Linked DNA regions of Homo sapiens. The protein of the gene in region 1 purifies or fractionates together with the protein of each later gene. This does not show direct contact. Each region holds a gene or a part of one and is shown on either strand. Other genes may lie near its edges.

Region 1 (3,500 bases):
GGGACACACAGCACAATAGATGGAGGGTGGGCACCCACAGACCTGGCAGGGACTGTGACTTGGCCAGTGTTTCTAAGAAAGGGGCTGGGGAGACATTGAAGTGACTCTGCAAGATGGGGCTGAGTGGATACCAGTGACCTGGTGCTCAGGACAGGGCAGCAGAGGGGGTGTGTCAGGGAGGACGCATGCAGGACCACAGTGCTGGCACCATGGGACTTACATGTGCCACGCTAAGTTTGCTCTCCCCATTTAGTAAATAAGCCACGGAAGTGACCACACCTTCAGGCTGCTTCTGAGTGCCACGCCTTCCGACACTGCCACAAGCAAGCCCCTTACCAAAGCAGGCCCAGACATGCCCTGGAGCCCTGCCCCTGAGTGTCCCTGAAGGGCCCTCACTGGCACTACCCTGGGTTCTGACACTCCCAGGACCACCTGACATGTCCACCTCTGCCTGCCTAGGCTATCCACAGAGGAACACTGGCTGCAGCACAGGAGAGGCCGCTTCAGCTGTTTCTCAGGAGTCCCCAGGCATGCTCGCCTTGGATACTACTCCCTTTTAGGGCCTACAAGGCTGCCACACACACAGACATGCCACCTGAGGCGTGCTGACCACTGGTGCCATCCTGCCATCGCAGCACTCACATGGCCTCTCCCTGCCCCAGGAGAGGGTGGCCCCGCATTCATCTAGGCTGCCATTTCTTGTGCTGACCGAGGGCCTCACCAATGGAGGTAGGAACAGCCTCACCCCTCAAAATATAGACCTGGAGATTCTGAGGGCGAGCTGTGTGCCCAGGGCCCCAGAGCAGGTGAGAAGTAGAGCTGAGCTCTGCCTGGGGAGTCTAAGCATGTGGCCTTTCACTGGATCTTCCCATCACCGAGCACTGGGACTGGGGGGTACCAATTAGGGAAGAGGGAGAGGGCAGTGTTCTGGACTTCCTCACACCCTCAGGGGAGGCAAGACTTGATTCCCAGCCCATAGGCTCCTCCCCTTGCTCCCCCAGACCAAGTCCTGCCCAGGAAGCAGGGGTGAAGAAAACCAGGGGCTGATGGCTCCAGAAGGCTCCAGGCACCTGGACTCTAGGCAAGAACAGGCCTGGGAGCTGAGATGGCCCAGCCAGGCAAGGTAGGGGTGGCAATCCCAGTCCCATAGCCTGACTCAGGAATAGTGATGTTGGGGGACAGAGGAACCTGCCAACAGCCAGAAACTCCTCCCCAGAACTGCTGGGTGGGGCCTTGAGCAGCCATACACAGATTTTAGGACTTAGAATATAGATATGGTAATCAAAACTGTGTGGTACCAACATGGGAACAGAACCATGGGCCAACAGGCGAGACCAGAGAATCTGAAATTGATTTGCACAAATAGGCCCAAACAATGTCTGACAAAGGTGCGAGAGCAATTCAAAGGAGGAAGGACAGCCTTTCCAACCAATGGTGCTGGGACAATGGAGCAACTGGGCATCAAAACAACAAACAAAAAACACCTAAACTTCACACCTTATACAGAAAGTAACTCAAAATGGTTTATAGATTTAACTGTAAAACATAAATCTATAAAATATTCAGGAAAATATATAGGAGAAAATCTTTGTGATCTAGGCCAAAGAGCTCTTAGACCTGATACCAAAGGCATGATCCATAAAAGAAAAAAACTGATAAACTGGACTTCATCAAAATTAAAATTTTTCCTTCGGGAAAGGCCCTGCTAAGAGGATGAAAAGATAAGTTACAGGCCAGGAGAAATATTTGCAAGCTGCATATCCAACAAAGGACTAGTATCTAGAACATATAAAGAATTCTCAGCCAGGCACAGTGGCTCACACTTATAATCCCAGCACTTTGGGAGGCCGAGGCAGGAGGACTGCTTGAGCCCAGGAGTTCAAGATCAGTCTGGGCAACAGAGTGAGACCCCCGACTCCTCAAGAAATTTAAAAATTAGCTGGGCGTGGTGGCATGCACCTGTGGTCCCAGCTTTTCAGGAGGCTGCAGTGGAGGGATCACTTGACCCCAGAAGGTGGAGGCTGGGGTGAGACATGATCATGCCACTGTACTCTAGCCTGGATGACAGAGTGAACCATGATTTAAAAAACAAAACAAAACAAAAAAAGAATTCTCAAAACTAAAAAAAAAAAAAATTAAAATTAAAAACTCCAATTAGAAAATAAGCAAAAAACATAAAGAGACACTTTGCCAAAGAGAATATACAGATGGCAAATAAGCATAAGAAAAGATGCTCAGCATCACTAGTCAGTGGGGAAATGCAAATTAAAACCACAGTGAGATATCACTATACATCCATCAGAATGGCTAAAATAAAAAATAGTGACATCACTAAATGCTGGCAAGGAGAAACTGGATCTCTCACACATTACTAGTGGGAATGTAAAATGTACAGCCACTCTGGGAAACAGTCTGGCCGTATCATATGGAACTAAGCAAGCAGCTACCCTACTATGACCCAGCAACTGCACTTGTACGCATTTATCTCAGAGAAATGAAAACTTATGTTCACATAAAAACCTGTACACAAATGTTTATAACTGCTTTATTTGCAAGAGCTATGGAATGGAAACAGCCCAGATGTCCTTCAATGGATGAAGAGTTAAATCAACGGTGGTACATCCATAGCCCGGATGCAATATAAAGGAATGAACTACTGATATATGCAACAACCTGGATGAATCTCCAGAGAATTAATGCTCGGTGGAAAAAGCCAATCCCAAGAGGCTACACGGTGTACGATTCCTTTATTTAGCATTCTTGACACACCAAAATTAGGGAAATGGAGAACAGATTGGTGATTGCCAGGGGTTAAATGTGGGGGTAAAGAGAAAGGTACTAATCTCTTCTCCATTTCTGTAATTTTGGCAGGAGGAAGGTGGGCGTGAATATAAGAAGGCAACAGGCTGGGCACGGTGGCTCACGCCTGTAATCCCAGCACTTTGGGAGGCTGAAGTGGGCAGATCATTTGAGGTCAGGAGTTCGAGACCAGCCTGGCCAACATGGTGAAACCCCAACTCTACTAAAAACATAAGAATTAGCTGGGCAAAAACTAACCGGGCGTAGTGGTGGGCGCCTGTAATCCCAGCTACTCAGGAGGCTGAGGCAGGAGAATCATTTGAACCCAGGAGGTGGAGGTTGCAGTGAGCCGATCGCACCATTGCACTCCAGCCTGGGCAGCAAGAGTGAAACTCCATCTCAAAAAAAAAAAATAGAAGGCAACAGGCTGTAACCTCTTTACTGTATCAGTGTAGTGTCCTGGTGCAATGTTGTACTAGTTTTCCAAGATGTTACCATTGGGGCAAACTGGGTAAAGGACAGAATAAATCTCTCTGTGTCATTTCTTATAATGCACATGAATCTTTAATTTTTTTTTTTTCTTTTTGAGATGGAATCTTGCTCTTTCACCGAGGCTGGAGTGCAGTGGCACGATCTAGGCTCACTGCAACCTCCACCTCCCAGGTTCAAGCGATTCTCCTGCCTCAGCCTCCTGAGTAACT
Region 2 (3,500 bases), on another chromosome or scaffold:
TGTGTACATGGACAACACGTGTGACAGGCTCTGAAGCCCATCTGTGTACACGGACAGCACGTGTGATGGGCTCAGGAGCCTGCCTGTGTACATGGACAGCACGCGTGATAGTCCTGGGATCCTGACTGTTTACAAAGACAGCACACATGATAGGCCCAGGAGCCTGTCTGTGTACACGGACAACACGTGTGACAGGCTCCGAAGCCCATCTGTGCACACGGACAACACGTGTGACAGGCCCCGAAGCCCATCTGTGCACACGGACAACACGTGTGACAGGCCCCGAAGCCCATCTGTGCACACGGACAACACGTGTGACAGGCCCCGAAGCCCATCTGTGCACACGGACAACACGTGTGACAGGCCCCGAAGCCCATCTGTGCACACGGACAACACGTGTGACAGGCCCCGAAGCCCATCTGTGCACACGGACAACACGTGTGACAGGCCCCGAAGCCCATCTGTGCACACGGACAACACGTGTGACAGGCCCCGAAGCCCATCTGTGCACACGGACAACACGTGTGACAGGCCCCGAAGCCCATCTGTGCACACGGACAACACGTGTGACAGGCCCCGAAGCCCATCTGTGCACACGGACAACACGTGTGACAGGCCCCGAAGCCCATCTGTGTACACGGACAACACGTGTGACAGGCCCCGAAGCCCATCTGTGTACACGGACAACACGTGTGACAGGCTCCGAAGCCCATCTGTGTACACGGACAGCACGTGTGACAGGCCCAGGAGCCCGTCTGTGTACACGAACAGCACGTGTGACAGGCTCTGAAGCCCGTCTGTGTACACGGACAACACGTGTGACAGGCCCCGAAGCCCATCTGTGCACACGGACAACACGTGTGACAGGCCCCGAAGCCCATCTGTGTACACGGACAGCACGGGTGATAGGCCCAGGAGCCCGTCTGTGTACACGAACAGCACGTATGACAGGCCCCGAAGCCCATCTGTGTACACGGACAACACGTGTGACAGGCTCTGAAGCCCATCTGTGTACACAGACAGCACGGGTGACAGGCCTAGTTTTGCTTCTTCAGTGAAGTTTTGGTGATGACACATGATTTGCTGCAATCTCTACTGCCATGCATCAGCTCTAAAATGCTGTCAATCACCGTCAGACAAACCTTATTACTGGCTGGGCGCGGTGGCTCACGCCTGTAATCCCAGCACTTTGGGAGGCAGAGGTGGGCAGATGGCGAGGTCAGGAGATCAAGACCATCCTCGCTAACACGGTGAAACCCCGTCTCTACTAAAAATACAAAAAAACTTGCCGGGCGTGGTGGTGGGCGCCTGTAGTCCCAGCTACTCAGGAGGCTGAGGCTGGACAATGGAGTGAATCCAGGAGGCAGAGCTTGCAGTGAGCTGAGATGGTGCCACTGCACTCCAGCCTGGGCGACAGCGCAAGACTCCGTCTCAAAAAACAAAACAAAACACCTTATTACCTACCCAAAAGCTGTGATTTTCATTAGTTTTAGGGTCTCAAATGGGGAACATTTCACAAGGTTCTTGTCCACGACTGATCTTCTTTAGGATAAAGCTCGATCAGCATTTCAGTTAATAACCAGGAAGGAGTTTTATCTTTTTTTAGGGGGAGAGGAAAATGTCCATTTTTCCTAAAAAAAAAAAAAAAAAAAAAAAATGGTGATTTTTAATAGAGACGGAGTTTCACCATGTCGGCCAGGCTGGTCTCGAACTCCTGACCTCAGGTGGTCCACCCGCCTTGGCCTCCCACAGTGCTGGGATTACCGGCATGAGCCACCGCACCCAGCCTGAGGTTGTCTTTTTTTTTTTTTTGAGACAGGGTCTCACTTTGTCACCCAGGCTGGAGTACGGTGGCGTCATCTCACCTCACTGCAGCCTCGACCTCCTGGGTTCAAGCCATCCTCCCGTCTCAGCCTCCCGAGTAGCTGTGACCACAGGTGAGTGCCACTATACTTGGACAGTTTTTTTGTATTGTTTGTAGAGATGGGGTTTTGCCACATTGCCCAGGCTGGTCTCACACACCTGAGCTCAAGTGATGGATCTGCCTTGACCTCCCAAAGTGATGGGATTACAGGTGTCAGCCACCAACCCTAGCCTGGAATGTTTTATACTTTAAAAAATTCAGTATCTTTAATAGATAAAAGGGCTCAGATTTTTTTATTTCTTCACATGTCAATTTAGATAAGTTTTATCTTTAAAGGAACTTGCCCATTTGTCTAATCTGGAAAATTTATTAGCAAGAAGTTCCTTATCGCCCGTTACTATCTGCACCATCTGTACCTGTGAACACTCCTCTCCCATCCCTGAAAATGGTAACGTACCTGGACCTTCCCTTTTTCCCTCCATCAGTCAATCTAGAGTTTTTGCCAACTCGTCTTTTGAGAGAACCAAGTTTCGGTCTCACCGATTCTCTCCATCGTGTCCATACTCTATTCTGTGCATTCCCCTCTTTGATTAGTTTCTTCCTTCGACACATTTTGAGTTTAATTTGCTCTTTTTCTAGTTTAAGGTAGAAGTTTCAGGTAAATTTCTAGATTTTTAAACACTTTTCTAATTTAAAATTTACGATGATAAAGTTCTAATCATCGTTTCAGTTGCATCCCACAAATTTTGATAGGTTGCTATTTTCATTACCAATCAGTTCAGAAAAGATTCTAGGCCAGGCATGGTAGCTCACATCTATAATCCCAGCACACTGGCTTTCAAAAAAAATTGAAAAAATTAGCCAGGTGTGGTGACACCCACTTATAGTTCCACCTACTTGGGAGGCTGAGGTGGGAGGATGGTTTGAGCCCAGGAGTTCAAGATTACAGTGAGTTATAATTGTGACATTGAACTCCAGCCTGGGCAATAGAGCGAGACTCTGTCTCCAAAAAACCAAAACACACACACACCCACACACAGCAAAAACTGACAGGGTTGAAAGTAGAAATAGACAAATCCATAATTATTATTACGATTTATTTATTTATTTATTTATTTATTTTTTTGAGACAGAGTCTCGCTGTATTGCCCGGGCTGGAGCCTGGTGGCACAATCTCAGTTCATTGCAACCTCCACCTCCTGGGTTCAAGCAATTCTCCTGCCTCAGCCTCCCAAGTAGCTGGGATTACAGGCACCCACCACCATGCCTGGCCAATTTTTTTTTTTTTTTTTTTTTTTTTAGATGGAGTCTCGCTCTGTTGCCCAGGCTGGAGTGCAGTGGCACGATCTCAGCTCACTGCAAGCTCCGCCTCCTGGGTTCACGCCATTCTCCTGCCTCAGCCTCCTGAGTAGCTGGGACTATAGGCTCCCGCCGCCACACCCGGCTAATTTTTTTGTACTTCTTTAGTAGAGGCGGGGTTTCACCGTGTTAGCCAGGATGGTCTGGATCTCCTGACCTCATGATCCGCCCACGTCGGCCTCCCAAAGTGCTGGGAATACAGGCATGTGCCACCACGCCTGGCCCAATTTTTGTATTCTTAGTAGAGATGGGGTTTCACCATGTTGGCCAGGCTGCT

Evidence for each region. The genes of interacting proteins can lie anywhere in the genome.
Region 2: the proteins of ZMIZ2 (region 1) and TCF25 purify together in Homo sapiens (affinity purification with mass spectrometry, with the first as the bait; one large-scale study listed by BioGRID). This does not show direct contact.

The regions. Positions count from the first base shown.
Region 1 is NC_000007.14:44,751,847-44,755,346, reverse strand, and holds part of ZMIZ2 (zinc finger MIZ domain-containing protein 2), read right to left. Parts: intron 1-3,500. UniProt on the Homo sapiens protein: Increases ligand-dependent transcriptional activity of AR and other nuclear hormone receptors.
Region 2 is NC_000016.10:89,876,592-89,880,091, reverse strand, and holds part of TCF25 (ribosome quality control complex subunit TCF25), read right to left. Parts: intron 1-3,500. UniProt on the Homo sapiens protein: Component of the ribosome quality control complex (RQC), a ribosome-associated complex that mediates ubiquitination and extraction of incompletely synthesized nascent chains for proteasomal degradation.